Regions from separate parts of the Homo sapiens genome. Here regions 1, 2 and 4 are each reported to be linked to region 3. Evidence: microRNA targets listed by miRTarBase, many of them from high-throughput screens and not tested one by one. Region 3 holds a microRNA gene; each other region holds the end of a gene's coding sequence.
Evidence for each region. Region 3 holds the annotated microRNA hsa-miR-4801 (UACACAAGAAAACCAAGGCUCA, at 2,282-2,303, shown strand). A microRNA usually pairs through its seed, bases 2 to 8, with sites in the 3' UTR of a target mRNA and lowers its output. Matches are read on the target gene's strand: a 7mer-m8 pairs with bases 2 to 8, a 7mer-A1 pairs with bases 2 to 7 and ends in A, and an 8mer does both.

Region 1 (5,565 bases), not on the chromosome of region 3:
TCACTAGTATTATTATTTTAAAGAATACAGAAACTGCCTCTCTTTATTTTTGGAAAAAAAAATTGAGCCTATAGTTGTACTTAGCAGTGAAAAAGAATGCAATATTTATGAAATATAATAAAATGGGGCATTTTTCTTTTCTACTCAGTCCCTGAGATAACTTTTCAACATCCAGTATAAAAACATCCAAAATAAAAGAAATTCATAATTATTTCTTCTAAAGCAATTGAGAAAAATTCATTTTCTCTCAATTTTCATATTTACTTATACTTTCAAAAATAAGATATTTGTTTTAAATCTATCTAAAGGTCTTCATGGTATGGGGAAAGTAGCAGTGCTGATAGAATGGGGTCTGTATTTCAAATGCTTGCTGTATTCTTTATCAGCGTCTGTTAGTCACTACTAAAAGTCAACACCAGTTCCTATTTATCACTATTCAAACCATAACTGAGTGAGAAAACTGAGATTATGCATTTAGTCACAAAATATTAATGCAGAGTTCTAAAAGTGGCTACCTGGTCTTTTTTTAGCATGTCTACAAACAGGTTTGTTTTACATAAATGGCTTTTCTACAAATTTGAAATGTGAATATATTTTATTTTTTCCCAGTGAGTACACAATACACAATTCTTTGACAATACTATTAACCGATTTTATGCCAATTTCTTCTCTGATCTAACAACATCAAATGAAACACATTAAGATTTTGGATGCTGCTTGGTGACTTAAACAAACTACAGTTAAAAAAAATCCATCTATAAAACAAAGTATAAAAAGTCTACCCACGGCCACAAAATCCCTTTTCTTGCAACACTTTAAAATCACAACAAATGCTTTTTAAATTATGAGATTTAAAAAAATTAGTAAATTGAACATCTTTTTTTAGAAAAAAGTATGGTGTTTCATTTGAAGTACACATTATAGAGAAGCAAAACAAAAGTAATTTCACCTCTAAAATAATGTGGAAAGACATGTTGCTTTAGAACAGTTCTTGCCATGTAATTCCATAAACAATATACAGAAGCAGATGAACAAATTAGTGAATATTATGTTTCTGCATATCTTTAATACTGATGCACAGTTGCTTCCCAGTAGTGAAGATAAACCACAGTTTAGAGTTCAATGGTACTGTTATCATTATATTGTCAATGGACAATTACATAAGTTTATTGAATAGAAATTGAGAGGTGTTCCATCAAAGCACATTACAAACTTTCAACTCAAATCCTGTTGAAAACATATTTAAATACCCAGAGCATTAAACTATGACATAGAACACCATTAAATCTGTTTTGTACTCAACGCAAGTAAACTTGCAATGGTTTTACTTTTCTTGGTTGTGTGATACCTTATATGTTGGTTTTGAATTTTCTACATTCTCCCTTGAACTGGATTCAAATCCTGTGAAGGAATCAATTCTTTTCATGCCCCTGTACTATCCCATCTTATTTTAAAAATCTCACAGGACATGTTTGGAAGAGGGGTAGGGCGACTCCACCTGCATACACTGGCATACCTGAGTTTGGGCACCAATAGAGCTATTTTCCCAAAGAAGACGTTTCCTGTTATGAATGAAGCTGTGCTTGTATTGGACATGATTGCATTGCAGCATTGCCTATGAGTGCAAGATCAGATTACATTCTCTCCCACCCAGATTTCCTCTTGCAGTCCTTATGCAGGCCTCCATTTAAACCTGCAAGAGTGAGCTCAGTGAATTTCTAATCATATTCATTGAATCGGCTATGAAACGAGAAACTGCTGTGGCTCTCATAGGTATTTGTATTTTTCTGTTGACATCTGACTCAACACTGATTAGTAGCTTTTTACTACTTTGTCAGTAGCAAGCTGACAAAGGCTTTGCTTTCCAGTAATGTTTCTGAATTCCTTTGTATAGCTACATACAGCATTTTATCTTGCCCTCAATCTACCTGAGGGTGATATTTTGGGTGCATAAATTGACTGCCCAATGTGTTTAAAACTAGGTTTAATAGGCAACATGGACTATTCTGAAAGAACATTCCAAGTAACCACAAGCTCTGCACTGACATAATTTTAACTACAACAGTTAATTTTTATATGCTGAAGACAATCAGGAAGGTATGATGCTATGCCCACGTTATTCCAAAAGTCATCTGCACACACATACTTCACTTTGAAGCCTTGGTTTATTAATCACCAACACCTGCCAGTTACCAGGGATCAAAGGCTATGTGTTGTATATGTAATGAACTAAGGTTTTAGACTAAACTGGGTCATAGAGAAACATAAAGAGGGAACACAAAACCTCTTCGAAATTTGTTTGCCTTTAAATAGAAAGAGGTTAGGCAGGGAACTTCATAAAGAGATATTTAAAGTCCTCACATCCTAGAGTTGTGAATAAGTATGTATTCACTCTTTGAAGAAACTTTTCATCTTCCTCAGTCTCTTTGTCCCAGAGAAATCACACTGCATTAGAATTCAGGCACTGATGGTAGAAAGTTGATAAAGGGTTTAATAACTGTGTCTCAGAATTCTTTTTCTCTTCAGCGAAGAAATAAATTACATGGCACCAAAAAGCTGGTGGGGCCCATGAAGAACATTACATTCTATACTTGCCTGTGCTGATGCAGTCTCAGGGAATAGAAAGGATGGAAATGTTTAATTATGTCATCTCCTTGTTATAACGACGTGACAAAAATTGGCTACTGAGCCAATAATGCATGGAGTGCGAATTGTCACTCAAAGGGGTCCCGTATTTTAGAACTGATCCTAATCACGTTGAATATTTTTAGAAGAGTACCAACAACTGAACTTATCATAGGAAAAATTTGAGAAAGTATAGACAGAAATAAAATTTAAGATTGTGTAGGAAACCCATGGGAAAATGTCACAAGTGGGAATTTCAGGAAGGTCCTCTTCTACTTGACTGACTATACATGTACAGTAGCTAACATATATTTCAAAGTCACATTTATTCTGAGCATACATGACTAATGTTCAGGAACTTCTTGTTGTCAAAGTCGTGAAAACAAATGAGGCAGGACAATTATTAATGTCCACTTACAAGGTCTGGTTTTATTTAAAAAGTTTATAAACATGCATTTTTTTCTCCTTTTAAATTTTTCTTTTCAATTTCCTTATTCAAAATGGGTCAAACGTATTTTAGTTGGAAGCCAATTTCTGAGAATGTACCATAGAATATTTATTCCAATAAATCTACTTACTGCGAACTGAACATACTCTCGGCACTGTTTTTTAAGCACGTACAATTTGGCTATACATTGGGTGGCGTAAACTTCACTTCTTAATCAAATAAAAAACAAGTTGTATATAAACTGTATTATTTTTTAAGTCATGAATTTAAGTGATGCAGCTCTATCCTCTAGTGTGCACTGTACATGTATTAGAAAGATGAAATAAGATATTGCAATAGAGTTTATATTTGGAAACAGCCCGAGTATGCCCTAATAATAAATTGCTTCTTTAACTATTTGCTAGATATTCTAGAGTTCATTTTGTTCGTTTCCTTGGGGAACTTCATATTATATTCTGACTTAACGAGTTGGAGAGCTTAATTACGATAATTCAGAAAATGTTTTTAAAAAACTGTAATATAAATACAGCTCTTGCAAAACACCTTAATTTCCTCTTGCTTATTGTAATTCTCAGATGGGTCAATTACAATGACAGGTAAAATTGATTCTAAATAAAACTTTAATTTCTTTTTTTAAGCAAATTTATTACATCTTTGCTACCTGCATACTTTAATGCATATTCAGTCTTAAGACTTAAACTACTTTTTTTGACCCCGGCTTTTGTCAATAGTAAAAGCCACCTTTCTACTATTTTTTTTATTGACTCAGTCCCTGATATTCAAAGAAGACTTTGCCAACACCATTGTTCCTTTGCATCTTCCTATTTCTACACCCCAACTGAAAACCATCTAACATGATTTGTTACAGCCATCATTATCCAATCTAGCTTACAGTACAGAAACTCCCTTCACATTCAGTCTTTTTCTTCATGTCATGAGGAGTAGAGATTTGTGCTTATCACCAAATAAAATTGCAGTGCAAAATTTAAACATAAAAGTTACACAATTAAAAGTTAATATATGGCACCACAGCCTATTAATTCACATATAGTACAACAGACCAATAAGAACAGACAATAATATGAGCAGAGCTAAAAAGAGTGAGCTTGCATAGCAATGCACAAAAGAAATTATATACAGAGGAGAATCCTTTTCTTCCTGTAGGGCGAGTTTTGTTTTCTTTCTTTTTTATATACTCCTGACAAGAAAGAGTTAAGGTGGGTGGTGTACTTAAGAGAAGAACACAATGAAAATATCTGTGGGATATGTGTGGCTGTGTGTCTTTACATTGCATTTACAGTTCTTTTAATAGTACATAAATAAATTGTTCATTGCACTGTTTAGAGTCATCACTTCCATGAGTCCGGACCTGATGGTCCTTCAGAGCAGCTTTGTATGTCTCCTCTCATTTACTCTAAAGAAAGAGAAAAAAGTAGAAATAAAATATAAATTAAGCATTCTGCTTTTCTGACCAGCATAACAAAAAGCAAAGCCAACAGATAATCAATGAAAATAAGGTCTTCAGATAGATGAGTTTGTGAATTTAAGTAATTTTACTTGAAGGAGATGATCAAAGAGTAAAAGGAAAGAAAACACTATAGAATTTGGAAATGTAAACACCCAGTAGAACTATTTTGGTACTCCTGTGAGTCTGTCATTACTTCAAAAAAAAGTTAAAGAAAAATTCAAGTAGTTATGAATCAAATTAAAATTATAAATGAATCTTAATAATAGATTAGCAATAGTCAACAACAATGACAACTGAGATCAATAAAGAAATTTATAATTTTGAAATTATTTCTCTTTTCATCATCTCACAGAATCTTCCAAACAATCTGTGATGTGAAGATAATGGTAATGCTATTTTTCTGATGAGGCAGTTAAAAATATTCAGCAAATATGTTTCTGATAATGCAAAGCTGTATTGGTAACTTTCCTGAGGAAATTAACACAAGGAGTTCAACATTTTTTGCTGTGACATTCTTAATTTTCCCTATTACCTAGTATTTTACATTTAGAAAATTAATTGTACTAACTACCTATGCCAGTTTTCATTCATAAATGGAAATTTATTTATAAAATGTTATTGTAGTCAAAACATTACAATTTAATTAACAATCAAAGATCAACTCTTCAAGGGTGACTACCCAAATTTAAAAAATAAATATAGAGTAACTTGAAAATGAAGCATTCCTTAGGAGTTTCTTTAAAACTACCAAAAGGCCAGTGTCTCCATTTCTTTATTGTGTTCAGTTAAAAAGGCAAAGAAAATGATAAACACTCTATATTTAATTTCATGTATAAGTGTTAAGACTACTTGCCTAACTTAAAACAATTTTTATAGCATAAATCCAACGTGAAATAGCAGAAACATTTATAAAAATGGACTTCAATAAATATAGCAATGGCCTAAGTTATGACCAAACTTGTTGAAAATTGCAATTGATTGTTTTTGTAACAGAGCAAGTTTTCTATTAATCTGAAATTTGTTT
Region 2 (5,565 bases), not on the chromosome of region 3:
ACAGTTGACTACTCAGAGTTCTGAGTAGTCAGATAACAAGTTTAAGTAAATTAAATATTTCCTAACAGCTAAAATGTGCTTAAACTCATTCTGCCATGCAGGTAAATGCAAATGTGAAATTCTTCTAGGAGATAAATTTCATTTAGGTTTGTCTTAGTTAAGTATAATTCCAAATAATGAATCTAAGTGACTGTAACCCAATTACGGCTACAGCCTAGTAACCAAGACAAGTTTTGATTGTGATATCAAAGTGTTTTCCTTACAAAACTGGATAATACCTGGGAAACAAAGGAAAATACGGATAAACCCAATATTCATGTACAAACTTAATATTTAAAATACTATACTACCATATTTATAAATTTGGAATCTTAATGCCTAGGTATATGGAGGGAAATGCATCTGATTCTCCTAAATTAATGATAAAAGTGTCAGTGTAAAAACCATGCAAGTTACTGAATATAAAACCTATTCAGATCATTTGTGTATATTCTTTAAATTTTAATTATATTATCAATTGTTAAATGTTTCCAATTTTAAAGTTATTTAAATTGAATCACAAAACATTCCCTTTATCTGGATCTTTTAGACTTGATGCACAGTAACTGAAATAATGACTACTGTTTTAATACCCTTAGTTTGCTGCCTTTTATGAGGGTGTCACGAAGTTCTAAAATGTATTTTTTTAAAGGTTAATCTCTAACTAGTTTAGCTTGCAATTGGTTAGTGTATATTTTGTGTAGTTGTGTTCATTAGTTTGCTTCTAAGTTCTAAAATGTATTTTTTAAAGGTTAATCTCTAACTAGTTTAGCTTGCAATTGGTTAGCCTATATTTTGCGTAGTTGTGTTCATTAGTTTGCTTCTGTATTTTTTTAAAACTATTGAAAGCTTAACTTTTTCTGTTTCTCATCACTTAGTATCTTTGTATAGAACTTGAGTAATTTATTCGTTAATATGAAATGTTGGTATTATGTGACTCAGAAGATCTTGGGTTTTAACATTTCTAGCATGAGTTAAACTATAATGTACTGATGAAATTTAATTGAAATATCCTTGACTAGAAACACTGATGTTTTAAATGTTAGTGTTTTTCTTAGTTTTAGAAATTCTGGTATTAAAAAAAAAAAGAGTGTAATCATACCACATAAATTTTCTTTAGATGATGTGCAGAAGAAACTGATTGAGAATGCAAGAGTAACTGTAGGGAGAAACATTTTGATCACTGATATGCCTTAGAACTACCCAAATGAATTACATTGAGGGTAGTCAAATAAAATAGATCATCTCACCACAGTCACTGCATAGAAAGTGGTTAAGTTTAACATAAGACATGTTGGATGTTATAAAAACAAATACTGTACTGAATTTAGTCTCAGGAAAAAAATAAATTACTTTGTTGAAAACATTTGGTTTCATTTTTCTAAATTCATATGTTTCTAACCTTAAGAGTCACTCATATCAGAAAGTCAAATGAATTTCATTTAAGAACTTATACTAAGTTTTAGATTTCATTATTAACGCACAAGTAATAATGTTGGTTTATAAATCAATGCCATTCAGATATCCATGGATCTAACCAGATCTCCTTCAAAGATGAAATTTTTGCTCTATCTTTATGCTAATCCGTGTAAACCAGAATAAAAATTTTAGGGAAGCTTTTACATGATACTGGTCAGAAATGAAATACCAGTCCGTTAATAAGAACCAAACACTTAAAAAAATTCTTTGAAATATTGTTAATCATATCACCCAATAGATAATTTTTAAATTAGTCGGTTGTCCCTTTCAGTGGCATATCCTCTAACAGATGGTTCTTATGTACTTGTATTTCTGAATTACAACCTATAAAACATTGTACTTCTGAATTACAACCTATGAAAACATTATAAAACTTTTACAAAATTTGCAGTGAAACTGATAAAACTGATGCTCCCGCCATTTCTAATCTGAAAGAACTTGGTGTACTCATTCTTTTTAATGGAAAAAGCAAAATTACCTTGAGTTGTTATCAGTGTCCTTCTCACTTGAATAATCTGCTACTATAAAGTTTTAGAGGGTTGAGAATTTATGACTGAAATCCAAAATCTGGCCTAAAACTCAATCTTACCATAGAAGATATGGTTGTTTAAAATTTGCCCTTTGCAGCTGGGTGCCGGTGGATCACGCCTGTAATCCCAGCACTTTGGGAGGCTGAGGCGGGTGGATCACGAGGTCAGGAGATCGAGACCATCCTGGCTAACACGGTGAAACCCCATCTCTACTAAAAATACAAAAAATTAGCTGGGTGTGGTGGCACTCGCCTGTAGTCTCAGCTACTTGGGAGGGGGAGGCAGGAGAATCACTTGAACCCGCAAGGTGGAGGTTGCAGTGAGCCAACATGGCGCCACTGCACTCCAGCCTGGGTGACAGAGTGATCCGTTTCAAAAAACAAACAAAAAAAATATGCCCTTTGCAATACTGAACATTTTAGACGTAAAGGATTTATTAGCACCTGAGTCAAGTGGATAACTAAACTCAAAGCCTAATGAGCTGATCCTCTATTTTCTGTTTAAGCATTAGTTTGAGAGTATACTTAACTGTGACATACATAGCAGAGTCCCAGAAGAAAGAACTGACTACTAACAAATTGAAACAAGTACCCTTCAGGGGACCGTGGATATAACCTGACTCCTTCAGTGACAAAAATCAAGGTGAGAACAACCCAAAATCCCAAAATAAGGATTACTAAATTAAAATAGGCTCTATCATACCCTATCGCTACCACCACATAAAGGACTAAGACTGTAATAGTAAGGACCTCTAAGCCAATTTCCTGATGTTCCAAAAAACATGCTAATCTTTCTGATCTAATTCCTACTTCACAAAAAGGAAAATTGAGAAAGAGGATTTATGGATTCCAGGAAGAGCTTCCACTAGTGGAATATAAGTTATAGGGCTAATCAAAACAAAGCATAAAATAAAAATCAACACATTCCTAAGTAACTACTCACACATATTTCATTTCCATGGGTACGTAGAAGCAATCAAAATAAGTCAGAAGACAGCAATTTAAATAAGATTTATTTTTTTAAAGGTGGTTATTTTTATTTTTTGCAATGCCACAGTTATAGGAGTGTATGAAGAGGTAACATGTCTCCTTTTCCTTAACCATGTTTTTTTTTTTTTAACCTTCTGCACAAAGGTAAAAGTTTTTGTTAATCTCATAGTTAATGGTATAAAACAGAGATTGGCAAACCTTTCCTCCAACAGGCCAGGTAGTAAATATTTTAGATTTCACAGACCACATATTTTTTTCTTTTATAACTCTTTAAAAATGTAAAAATCATTTTTAGTTTGCACCATACAAAAACAGACTGGGCCAAATTCGGCCCGTGGGCAGTAGTTTGCCAACCCCTGGTATAAAATATCTACTTTGTCTTGTCAGAGAAATTGCTGTCCTTAGGCTTCTAGACAATCTGCTGCCTGAAGTCAAGTGGAGAAGGGCCTTATTTACAATTTAATGTGGTTTGTGACAGAAGTAGAAATGGAGAGCTTCTGCTCACTTTTGACTCTCCCAGTTTTTCCATTCACTCATTCATTCAATAAATTTGTTGAGCACCTACTATGTACACTCTTAAATATCTTGGTGTTAGCAGAAATTTCCAGTGTTTCTTCCTTAAAAGGGTGATTTCTCCAGTTTCTCCAAACCAGGAATTATTTCTTAATACTCATGTTTTATGGAAAAATCAGGATTAAAATCTCTACCAGCACACAAGAGGATACATGATTATACAAAATGAATCTAGCCAACAATGATATCCTTGCACCCAATAGTGACACAGCCTAGATGAGGAAAATATGTAACTATCTCTATTTTAAAAGATACCTCTTTTCCTCCCACAGGCTGAAACTTTCAAAAAAAAAAAAAAAATCAGATCTAGAACACCCCGCAAGTAATTTCTTCCCATTTTCCTAGTTTTGCTGCCATGTTAACATAAAATCTGGATCCAGGTAGGCCTCTTCATTAGCTTTCTATTTCAGCCATAAAACAATACTACACTTACAGCTGAATACTGACTCCAAAGCAATGTGCATGCCCACATTTTATCTCAGGGAGGGATTGATTATGTTTCTGCTCCTTCAGAATGAAAACTGTTAGCTTTCTGAATCCTATTTATCCAAGGTGAGGGAAGACTTTTTAAAGTGGCCAAAAGGAGCACAGGACTTGAGTATTAAAATATAAAGGTGGCCCCCATTCCAGATCTTTGGTACAGTCATCAACTATAATAATCTGATTGCCCACCCCACCAAAACAGCACATTTTGTAATTAGAAGTGATTTTGATTTTCCTTTTGACCATGTAAACAATAGGGGAAATGCCTTGGGAAACTACTTTGCAATGCACTCTCATTTCTCTTAAATACACAACCAGTTCTCCCTTTGATAAGTTCATGGGGGGAAAGAATAGAGTAGGCCAAGGTTATCGCTTTCGCTCCCCTCTCTGTGTCCTTTTTTTTTCCTTTTCCTTGCGCTCCTGCTTGGCTAGTTTGTCTCTCTCCCTCTGCAGCTTGTCCTGTTCCTTCTTCCTTTGGGATTCATCCCGAAGTGAGTCTCGCTCCAGTTTTCGGGCATTAAGGACATCTTCCACATTGGTGTTTCGGAACAGAACTACAGGTGAGTTAAGGGATTAGGGTACAGGTCACACAGATCACACCTACTGCTGCCTTTCCTCATTCTACTTATCCTCTCTCCACCTGCTGAGTCCTGAATCGTCTTTATCTATTCCTGGTTTTTTAAAAAAAACCCTTATGTTTATCCTTGGTCTAACAGAGAAATCCTAAAGCTATATTACAAAAGTTTTAAAATGTCCTTTGGAATAAAACTCTTATTCAGATTTACCTAAATCTGAATTTTAAAATATTTTACCAAAGAAACAAAAAAATAAGAAAACAAAATATTTCATCAAAATGAAATTTCATTCTAGAATAAGTACTTATATCATTCAATGGCAGAATATTAGAGAATCTAGGCTAGTTTTGGTGAACAGAGTAGTAATGTAACTGACTAAATGTTTATGTACTTGGCTCTGTTAAAATGCCTTAAAAGAGTTAAATAAGATGTTTAACCTTATTAAACTTTATCAATTTGCTTTTGTTCCTAGACTACTAAAGCTGAAGTGAAAACCACATTCTAATAACCATACACACTGAATCTATAAGAGATAGAAAATGAGTTTAGGCTGGGCGCAGTGGCTCATGCCTGTAATCCCAGCACTTGGGAGACTGAGGCAGGTAGATCATGAGGTCAGGAGATCGAGACCATCCTGGCTAACAGGTGAAACCCCGTCTCTACTAAAAATACAAAAAATTAGCCGGGCATGGTGGCACACACACCTGTAGTCCCAGCTACTCGGGAGGCTAAGGCAGGAGAATCACTTTAACCCAGGAGGCGGAGGCTGCAGTGAGCCGAGATCGCACCACTGCACTCCAGCCTGGGCAACAGAGCGAGACTCTGTCCCAAAAAAAAGAAAAAAAAAAGTGTTTGGTGTTTGTATTCTCTGACAAATTATAAGGTTTTTGAGGAAAA
Region 3 (5,565 bases):
AGGTGGCAGCGTCCTGCCGCTCCGGTTGCTCCCCACGCGCGCTTGAGCGGGGTTTTTATAGCCAAGCTGCGCCGTTCACGTGCTCCTCGCCGCGTGGTCCCGGAACCTTTCTGGGAGCGGATCTCCGCGGGTAGTTCCTCCGAGGCCTCCAAGGTTCCTAGGGGCCTTTCTGCTCCCATCAAGGCGCACTCACCGGCTGTTCTGCTCGCCTGACAGCTCCCGGGCCCGTCGGCCGCCAGGTTGCTGGAGCCCCGCGCGGCCGGGTGCGCACCTGGGCCGGGCGGGAGGGTGTGGGTTCTCTGGAGCGCCCCCCAGCGCAACGTTACGCAAAGTGCAGGTGGCCGTGGATTGGGACCGGGGTGCGAGAAATCGGAGCTGGCTGTGGGCAGCAGCTTCTTGTGTGCGCTTCAGCCGCTCTTCAAAGTCAGTGCAACGCGTAGGTCAGCTCCACCTGAAGTTGATCCAGGGCGGCCACAGAGGACGCGGGGCCGTCCTCGGGTTCCGGGCTCAAGGTGGACGGCGCAGGGGTCCAGTCCACGTCCTAGGTGACATGAGACGCAGAGGGACCCAGATGTAAAATCGCCGTCTCCCTTCCACTCCACTGCACCCATGGAAATACTGCATAAGCCAGGACAGGAACGAAGACCTCGCAAAATAAAGTGTAATTGTGTTGGGGGCCAACGGCGCAGGGAGAAGGGAGTGTTTGTAGCCTTAATTGCAGTTTAGTCAATAAATCACTTATTCTGGGCTTCTGGGCAGGAACACCTGTCTTTTAGGGAAGAAGAACAGTTTTTCCAAATCTCTGAGATTGGGGAAGGGGTGGGCGGGCACAGGGTGAGGCAGTTCAGACGCAAGTGTTCTCTTCTTGCCTGGATGGTCCTAACCTAAGCAGCCCGGCCTCCTCTGGGCCTGCACTTCCTCTGGGGCCTGCTGGTGGCAGTGAAGTCCTATGCACTGCTGTTCATTTTTTTACCCCACCCCAGCCCCAACACACACGTTCTGGGGTAACCTCTTTGGAAGAATTGGGTCTCTAGGTTTGTAAGGCTGCCTCTCCACTCCTGAGAACCAGGGGGCAGACAGCAGCAGTTCTTACTTTGTGATAATTTGATGCAACCCGTAAAGAAGGCTTGAACATACCCAGTTATTTAATTGATTCAATTTCTTCACTCCAGAGTCATTCTCGGGTGGAAATGTTCTCAGCAGGAAGGGGGTCCCTGAAAGATCCTCTATTGTCTCAAGAGGTATGGACTGAGAGCTGTGGAAAGGTCATGAATATGCGGTATTTATTGCATATCATCGTGTATGAATATACAGTATCTATTACTGGAGAAAAGAGCTAGGATCACTTTATGCCTGATCTCAATATTGTTTATAAAAGAGTGATTAGAAGTTGCCAGATTGTCAGGGACCTGCCTTCCTGCCTTTCTTTTTTCTCTTACTTCTTTGTTTGTTTCTCTCTTCTCAGAAATAGGATTAGTGTTTGTGTCTTCTGACCTTTGCTTCAGATCTCAAAGTGTTGCATTTTCTTTGGATGACTTTGGGATTTTTGGCAGCCTCTATAACCTAATTAACTGTTCTAGACAGGCCGAAGTTTAGCATCTGCCAGTGTCACTGCAGACCAAGGCTGCAGAGGAGAGAGAATTTCACATTGTCTGTGGGCCACGCTGTAAAAGGCTCTTTGCACAGCCAGCTTTGCCTCAGCTAGAGAGGCTGCTGTCTTTGGAGTATTCTACCTAAGAAGGATACCAATTACTCACCTCCCTCAAAACACACACACATACACACACACACACACACACACACACACACACACGCATGTACATGCAAAAACAATCTTCTTCCACATTCTTCAGCTTGCAAGCATCTGACATCCTAACACCAGATATTGATTTCTTAGCACACAAATACCAATAAAGGAGGTGTCACCTATGGTGATAACACTTTATTATAAATTATTTAGATTTATTTCTTAACCTGAGGAACCAGAAAGAAAGAATTAGAGAGAGAGAGACAAATGAGAGGGAGAGGGCATGATTGTGGAAGGCTGACCCTGATTTTCAAGACAACTTTGTTTTTTTTATATCCGATTAAAATATTTTCTAAACGTTTTCTTCTTGTCCATAAATACTGGGAGTTTTTGAACCATGACAGGAGCCGTGATACCTGGATCCTGGCTCTACCATTAATGAGTTATGTGACCTTGAACAAGTCATTTAACTTTTTTGAGGCTTGGTTTTCTTATGTGTAAAATGTAATAACATTTCTTATGTTTAAAACACTTTACACAAGAAAACCAAGGCTCAAAAAATGAAATGACTCAAACCAAGTCAAATGACTCAAAACCAAGACTCAAAACAAGTGAAATGACTTGTTCAAGGTCACATAATGAGTTAATGGCAGAGCCAGGATCCAGGTATCACAGCTTCTGTTCCAGTGCTTCTTGCAACATACCACCTCTATTTTCTAATTTTGCTCAGGTCTGGCCCTTGAGGACATCTTTGTTAACCTGGACAGTGGGTGCTCAGGCCTGTGTTCACAGGTGTGGAAGGCTGGATATCATTTCTGCTTTCTAGATAGGAAAGAAGATCATTGTCTTCATGATCACACAGGACTAGACTCTTCCAACTTCTAGGTTGTTGATCTGATGACAAACACTTCCAGATTCTGTGTTTCTTTTGGGTCCTGCTCTTTCTTCATGAGACCACAGGTAAATCTGTACCATCCCAGACATGGGCTGGAGAATTTAAAGCATCTAGAAATGGGAAGGTGAAAGTACATGAAAAAATGAGCCTGGGACCAAGACTGTGATCAAAAACAAGCATTCCCCTCTCCATCCTCTCACGCTACCACCAATTAGTAGGCTAGACAGGTGCCTTATCCTTATAAAACAATGGGAGCTAGCTCTTTATAAAACAAGGGTGCCCAAAGGTAAAATTACCACTAGCTTCATTCTACTCACTGAGCTAGAAGGAGCCTTGTGATCATGAAATGAAACCCCCTTTAATATGTAGGTGATGCCCAAATTGTAATTTTATTAAATGAGTGGAAAGAAAATTACTTCCTAATAATACTGATATATGAGGATTTCCCATATTCTTGACCTGCTGTTAGGCTTTTAATAGGCATCTCATTTAATCGCACTACATCGAGGGTCTGGGCCCAGCACCTCCTATCTCCAAGTCTGACATCCCTTCTTGGACACTACTGTTCCTGTATATCTTTTGTTATGTGCATTCATTACCTTTTGTAACATATGTGCACTTTGCTTGCTCCGAAGTCTATGGTATGCACATGTACCTCACCTACTTCCCTTCACTGTGATGGCTGATGATTTTTCCCCCAGCTTCGTGGCTATGTCACATGTCCAGTTCATTCCTCGTAGGTGCTGGAGGTAGTGATCAAAAGGCACAAAACTAGAGTCCCTGTGACTGACTGTGACCCAGCAGAAAGAGTGCCCATCACCCAACCTGTATTTGCCTGCAGGTGCATTCCCATGTGTGTACATCAAATATCCTGGTCAGGAAACCTGTGGATCATTCTTCCATGAAATAAATTTGTTCTGTTATGGATAGAAGTGAAATAGAGCCCCTAGTGTCATGAAGAAGACCACATTAGCACATCATGCCACTCTTACTATTTTAGGGACTCCACCCAGTGAAGTCAGTGATGTGCTGTTCTTGCTTCCCTAGCTTGAAGAAGAGTATCAGACTTAATATTACATTCATACAGTGGCTCTATGATTTGGGTGATAAATAATTGAATCTGCTTTGCTAATGTGAGAAATAGATTATTCAGGGTCACTCAAGCCAGGGTTCCACTTTTCAAAGTTCTAGGTGGTAAGCTAGATCATTAGGAACCCACTTATTTGTTTACAAAATGGAAATTTTCAGTCTTTGTGAGAATTTGTCAGCATAACAATTTGCCAACAGAGACTGTTGATTCAGAGGTGTCTGTGGCATGATAGAATTCACAGCAGCACAGTTTTAAATAAAGTTACACCTTTCAGAAAGCGCTCTGATGTTTTCATGACTCAGAAATTCTAACTTTACCTCCACCCCCTTCCAAATCTGCGTAATGTATTTTTTGAGCAGCCTTCCTCTTACAACCTTCTAAACACATTGCTATGAGAGCACTATGCATGCCACACAAAGTAGAAGAAAGTTAAAGAAGTTTGAAGTAAAAGTTTGTAGATTATTTTGTATTTCTAAATTAAATATTTTATTTTCATTTTGTAATTGCCAAGGTTGTTTTTCTTTTTTTCTCCTTCATGACAATCTCAAATACAGTACCTTACAAAACCCTCCTCTTGCTTGTTTCATCATCTGATACTTATTTGGAGAGTTGCTTTTTACAAAGCACTTTCATACATGTTAGCTCATTTACTTTTAGTCTAACCTTCTAAAATGGGTTCTGCATTAACATTATTTCCCTCTCCTCTCCAATTTTTAATGTGAAGCTCGAGTGATTTTAGTGGCATGTTTAGGTTCACTCAGTTGCTGGATAGCAGAGCCAATGTCAAAACTAGATCTCCGAACATGAAGCCATAGATCATTTATAATATACCACGTGGCTGCCAACGTATAACAAGATCCATTTAGCCAAATTGATTAAACATCATTTGCACTTCTCTATAAAATTTATACTGGTGGGTAGGCAAACCAAATAATATGGTGTATAAAACACTCTACTTGGATGGCAATGTTAGCTACATTGCCTATTTACATTGACTCATATTTTTATTGAGCAGAAGCTAACTTCCACATCTTTTAATTCTGCTAACAACTCAGTCTTGTAGATAAGTACAAGAGGCTGAGACTTTAAATGACTTGTCCAAATTCAGATAGCTAATAAGTTGGCAAAGCTAGAATGTGAACCAGATTTATCTCACCCTTATGCTAGATGGAGTCTTTTCATCATGTAACACTAAATCCACATGAATAAGAAGGAAATCTTCCCTTTACAGTACTCTATATTGACATGGCCCAAATATCTTAAATATATTGTCCAGGTCAATCATTGTTTTCTTATTTTTTAAGTGCTTGTACTTAGCTAGAATAGTATGAAGCTTGAATGTATTTTGAATCTGCTTTTCTTTTCAAAATACCTTAATGGGATAAAGTGTTTTTATTTGCATATTTTTGCAATTTGCATATTTTCTGCAAAAATTCAATATAGATGATGATTCTATAACAGTCTCTCTAAATATATTTATTTGGATTCTACTTTCTGAAAAACTACTATGACTTTGCCATCTTCCTTTTCTCACCATTCTTATAGTTATGCTTTATGTTTATTATTTAATAAGATTTATTTCTTCACCAAATAAGAGTCTCCATCACAATCCTTTAGCCTGAATTAGTTATAGAGTTGCACTATGCATCTCCTTGGGTTACCCCTTGTAAATGTAAATTATCTTATCGCCTAAATTTAGAAAGCCATATGCAGAAATTGACAGGTCATTTACATTCAGTTCAAAGAAGAGGATAGGCAGCCAATTATATTGTGTTGAAGCCTTGAGAAACATTTTACAAATCAAATGATTCAAAAACAGGTTTTAAATTCCTA
Region 4 (5,459 bases), not on the chromosome of region 3:
CACCTCTATATTTCTATATGTGTGTCTTTAATTCCTCTAGCACCGCTGGGTTAGGGTCTCCCTGACCGAGCTGGTCTCGGCACTTTGTCTAAAATGAAAAATGTATGTGTGCATGCTTGTATGATGTCAGGATTGTGGACTTGTCCTGTCACCAGGTAGTTGCATGGTGTTGGACAGCTTTAGTTTCAATTTCAATACTAAGATATAGTGTTGGACTAATACCTCAACATTTTGTGACTGTCATATATCACAAGCATATACTTAAAAGATAAACCATTTGGCTTGAATCTCATCCTTTAGTGTAATGGTCTGTGCATCTTTCAAACCTTTGAAATCGAACTCATGTTTAATTTAATACTAAACACAATGAAGCCTTCCTACAGCAAACTCATCTTAAAGGGACTGGGGTTATTTATGCACAGAAAGTGAAGACTTCAGCACATGTGCTCCTTGTCAAATATGTATTGTATCTTTCTAAATAGATAACAGTACCACCATTAACTCCTGTAATAAAGAGTAACTGTAATGTGAATCAGTGCATACAGAAATGAAGCACTGGTATTCTTATTTCAAATTCCTATTTATTTCTCACTGATACTAGTGAGCAAAAATATACTTATTTCTTCCCAAAATTACTGGAATGTTTTCCTTTTTGATGCATTTTTTTCTCGCAAGATATATTTTCTCTGACCTTCATATGCTGAAATGGGGAGAAAACTGATGATTCTCAATTAGCAGGGCCGTGCCTCTGCAGTGGGAAGGGGGAGAAGAGGGCATCTCAGAAATTCTTAGAAGTGAAGTTTAATAATCATATCTATACTCTATTTTTATCCTAATAAAATAAAACAAAATTCTCCTAATGTATTAATAACACAAATTACAGCAACCCAAACTTGATAAAATCATGGCCAGGGAAGTTATGCAGAAAAAGGCCGTGGTAGGCATCTTCAGTGGCTTTCCTATTTCCTCACTAAAAGATCCTTGATGTTGATCAGTGGCAACATCCCAAGGCAGAGTCACAATTGGTCTGAAACTATCATGACATCTTCCCAGCCTCCCTTGCAGGGAGAAGTGACTATATGACCCAATTCTGATGGGAAATGAGGATAGAGAGGTACACAGAAGCCAGATCAGAGAAAGCCTTGGATGCCACATTAAAATATTTGAACTTTATCCTTATTCTACCCTACACCCATTCTAAATACTGTTGATATCCCTTATCTTAAAAAGAGAAAACCAAAACTTTAAATAGCTTGATTGAACTCATAGCTACTGAGTGGATGAACTATAATTTGAGCCTGGGTTTTGTTTTTGTTTGTATTTTTTGTAGTGTGTGGGATCCAAAGAACTGTCTGGTCATCACCAAGTGAGTGCAAGCTAGTTAGAAATAAAGAAATAATGAGAGTTGACTGAGTCTGTAGAGAATGGTTAATGTAACAATATATTTTAAAGATTGAGAAAGTTGGCTGGGCATGGTGGCTCACGCCTCTAATTCCAGCACTTTGGGAGGCCAAGGCTGGCGGATCACTAGGTCAGGAGATCAAGACTATCCTGAAACCCTGTCTCTACCAAAAATGCAAAGACTAACTGGGCATGGTAGCATGCGCCTGTAGTTCCAGCTACTCAGGAGGCTGAGGTGGGAGAATCGCTTGAACCCGGGAGGCCGAGACTGCGGTGACCGAGATCGCACCACTGCACTCCAGCCTGGCAACAGAGTGAGACTGTCTCAAAGTTGGCTACATCCCTGGGATGCAAGGCTGGTTCAACATATGCAAATCAATGAACGTAATCCATCACATAAACACAACCAATGACAAAAACCACATGATTATCTCAATAGATGCAGAAAAGGCCTTCGACAAAATTCAACAGCCCTTCATGCTAAAAACTCTCAATAAACTAGGTATTGATGGAATGTATCTCAACATAATAAGAGCTATTTATGACAAACCCACAGCCAATATCATACTGAATGGGCAAAAACTGGAAGCATTCCCTTTGAATACCTGCACAAGACAAGGATGCCCTCTCTCACCACTCCTATTCAACATAGTGTTGGAAGTTCTGGCCAGGGCAATCAGGCAAGAGAAAGAAATAAAGGATATTCGATTAGAAAACGAGGAAGTCAAATTGTCCCTGTTTGCAGATGACATGACTGTATACTTAGAAAACCCCATTGTCTCAGCCCAAAATCTCCTTAAGCTGTTAAGAAACTTCAGCAAAGTCTCAGGATATAAAATCAATGTGCAAAAATCACAAGCATTCCTATACACCAATGACAAACAGAGAGCCAAATCATGTGTGAACTCCCATTCACACTTGCTTCAAAGAGAATAAAATACCTAGGAATCCAACTTACAAGGGATGTGAAGGACCTCTTCAAGGAGAACTACAAACCACTGCTTAACAAAATAAAAGAGGACACAAACAAATGGAAGAACATTCCATGCTCATTGATAGGAAGAATCAATATAGTGAAAATGGCCATACTGCCCAAGATAATTTATAGATTCAATGCTATCCCCATTAAGCTACCAATGACTTTCTTCACAGAATTGGAAAAAACTACTTTAAAGTTCATATGGAACCAAAAAAGAGCCCGCATCGCCAAGACAATCCTAAGCAAAAGGAAAAAAGCTGGAGGCAGCACGCCACCTGACTTCAAACTATTCTACAAAGCTACAGTAACCAAAACAGCATGGTACTGGTACCAAAACAGATATATAGACCAATGGAACAAAACAGAGGCCTCAGAAATAACACCACACATCTACAACCATCTGATCTTTGACAAACCTGACAAAAACAAGCAATGGGGAAAGGATTCCCCATTTATAAATGGTGCCAGGAAAAGTGGCTAGCCATATGTAGAATGCTGAAACTAGACCTCTTCCTTACACCTTATACAAAAATTAATTCAAGATGGATTAAAGACTTAAATGTTAGACCTAAAACCACAAAAATCCTAGAAGAAAACCTAGGCAATACCATTCAGGACATAAGCATGGGCAAGGACTTCATGACTAAAACATCAAAAGCAATGGCAACAAAAGCCAAAATAGACAAATGGGATCTAATTAAACTAAAGAGCTTCTGCATGGCAAAAGAAACTACCATCAGAGTGAACAGGCAACCTACAGAATGGGAGAAAATTTTTGCGATCTACTCATCTGACAAAGGGCTAATATCCAGAATCTACAAAGAACTCAAACAAATTTACAAGAGAAAAACAAACAACCCCATCAAAAAGTGGGCAAAGGATATGAACAGACACTTCTCAAAAGAAGACTTCTATGTAGCCAACAGACACATGAAAAAATGCTCATTATCACTGGTCATCAGAGAAATGCAAATCAAAACCACAATGAGATACCATCTCACACCAGTTAGAATGGTGATCATTAAAAAGTCAGGAAACAATAGATGCTGGATAGGATATGGAGAAATAGGAACACTTTTACACTGTTGGTGGGACTGTAAACTAGTTCAACCATTGTGGAAGACAGTGTGGTGATTCCTCAAGGATCTAGAACTAGAAATACCATTTGACCCAGTGATCCCATTACTGGGTATATACCCAAAGGATTATAAATCATGCTACTATAAAGACACATGCACATTTATGCTTATTGCGGCACTATTCACAATAGTAAAGACTTGGAACCAACCCAAATGTCCATCAATGATAGACTGGATTAAGAAAATGTGGCACATATACACAATGGAATACTATGCAGCCATAAAAAAGGATGAGTTCATGTCGTTTACAGGGACATGGATGAAGCTGGAAGCCATCATTCTCAGCAAACTATCACAAAGATAGAAAACCAAACATTGAATGTTCTCACTCATAGGTGGGAATTGAACAATGAGATCACTTGGATACAGGGCTGGGAACATCACACACCAGGGTCTGTCGGGGGTGGGGGGCTGGGGGAGGGATAGCATTAGGAGAAATACCTAATGCAAATGATGAGTTGATGGGTGCAGCAAACCAACATGGCACATGCATAACTATGTATCAAACCTGCACATGGTACACATGTACCCTAGAACTTAAAGTATATATAAAAAAAAGATTGAGATGGTTGTGTGTAATCTTTTTATTAATAAGCAAAAGATTGTTCAGTACATAATTTAAATTCCAGCATTGAAAGCAGCCTCAAGAGATCACACAATTCAGATCTCCTTCTGTGCTTTCCAAAGATAGGTCCCCTGGATTCCACATGATTGAAGTAATTGCTTATTTCTGTGATTTTAGACCACTGGTTTGACAAAAACAAAATGAACCACGAGGGGGGAGAAAGAAACCAGAAACCCTATTTGTAACAAAGTCTCAACAATGAGATACAATGGTATTAGATACACGCCAACACACACACACACACACACACACACACACACACACACTCAACAAAATACACAAATAATCCTAGATCTTGTAGCGAATTGTTGATTTATTCATTGTGACTGCAGCTCCTAGTAATGCTATTATTTGCAGGTGGTGAGTGTTGGTATGGGATGGTATGGAGCAACATTTTCCAAATTGTGGTTGTGATCAATATGTTTTTTATAATTAAAGACGGAAAAACATCACAGTGCATAATATATAAGGTCAATGTCTTGTGATACTTGATGTATGTATGTATCACACACACACATACACACCTACACACAAATACATAAACATACACAATGAATTCCACAGATATTGGATTGTGATGTAATCTTTATTTCTTACTCTGAGCTCCAGTTAGAAAAGTTTGACAATCATTGTTATAGAGCTATGTTCAGAAAGTGGAGACTTTCTGACTCACTGTGAGCTCTGCTGTATCTATGCGCTCCCTGGAGAGGGAGCAACTTGCTAAGGTACAGTCCTGTCCATTGGCATGGATATTTATTGTTCCACATGTTGGGAAAACCATGTGCAATAAAAATCAAACATATGAAACAATGGCTGTCATTGTACCACAGTATACATTGTATCTTGGTGAAGGTTCTTAAATTACTCCTTGGAGTTTCCTAATTCACTTCAGGAAGGATTTGTTGTGTTCCGTCTTTATGCTGTCACTTGCAAACCTTGGGAATAAACATAAAAAGAAATTAATGGAGAATTCCAATTCTCATTTTATTAAATCTTTACATCAACAACAGTAAATCTAAGGATGTTTAAATTAGAGGGATTCTGGAGCCAAAAATGCTGGTTTCCTGTAAAGAACTAAATTGAGTCCAAGTCCCATTCTTTTAATCCCTGCATTAAATTTGAAGCATACCTTAAAATATCAGATAGATATCCAATATCACTTGTAGTTCGTATAGTAATCCTTGACTTCAGAGAATGATATAGTTTGAAGACTAGAATAAAACCACAAAGGGTAGTTGTCTGCAGTATAATCCTTGTTTTGGAGTGTTATCCTTGATGTGGGGAAAGTATTGTTACTTTAATCCCTTTTCTTAAA

Region 1: the mRNA of ROBO2 is a reported target of hsa-miR-4801. Seed matches in the 3' UTR shown: 7mer-A1 at 4,073-4,079, 7mer-A1 at 621-627 and 7mer-A1 at 614-620.
Region 2: miRTarBase lists CCDC43 as a target of hsa-miR-4801. Seed matches in the 3' UTR shown: 7mer-A1 at 4,401-4,407 and 7mer-m8 at 3,749-3,755.
Region 4: miRTarBase lists NMRK1 as a target of hsa-miR-4801. Seed matches in the 3' UTR shown: 7mer-A1 at 4,690-4,696 and 7mer-A1 at 4,420-4,426.

What each region holds. Positions count from the first base shown.
Region 1 is chr3:77,644,976-77,650,540 of GRCh38, reverse strand. ROBO2 (roundabout guidance receptor 2) reads right to left here. Exons shown (of 28, transcript NM_001395656.1): 28 at 577-4,487. The coding sequence ends at 4,486. Among named protein-coding and RNA genes, the nearest start is that of LINC02077, 400 kb to the left of the region's middle.
Region 2 is chr17:44,674,397-44,679,961 of GRCh38, forward strand. CCDC43 (coiled-coil domain containing 43) reads right to left here. Exons shown (of 5, transcript NM_144609.3): 5 at 3,044-4,647. The coding sequence ends at 4,460. MEIOC (meiosis specific with coiled-coil domain) reads left to right here. Exons shown (of 8, transcript NM_001145080.3): 8 at 1-1,405. It overlaps LOC105371792 (a long non-coding RNA gene), which reads left to right and starts at 4,568. Exons shown (of 4, transcript XR_007065769.1): 1 at 4,568-4,653.
Region 3 is chr4:37,238,649-37,244,213 of GRCh38, reverse strand. MIR4801 (microRNA 4801) reads left to right here and starts at 2,223; the gene lies at 2,223-2,304.
Region 4 is chr9:75,056,489-75,061,947 of GRCh38, forward strand. NMRK1 (nicotinamide riboside kinase 1) reads right to left here. Exons shown (of 9, transcript NM_017881.3): 9 at 4,089-5,079. The coding sequence ends at 5,060. Among named protein-coding and RNA genes, the nearest start is that of NMRK1, 29 kb to the right of the region's middle.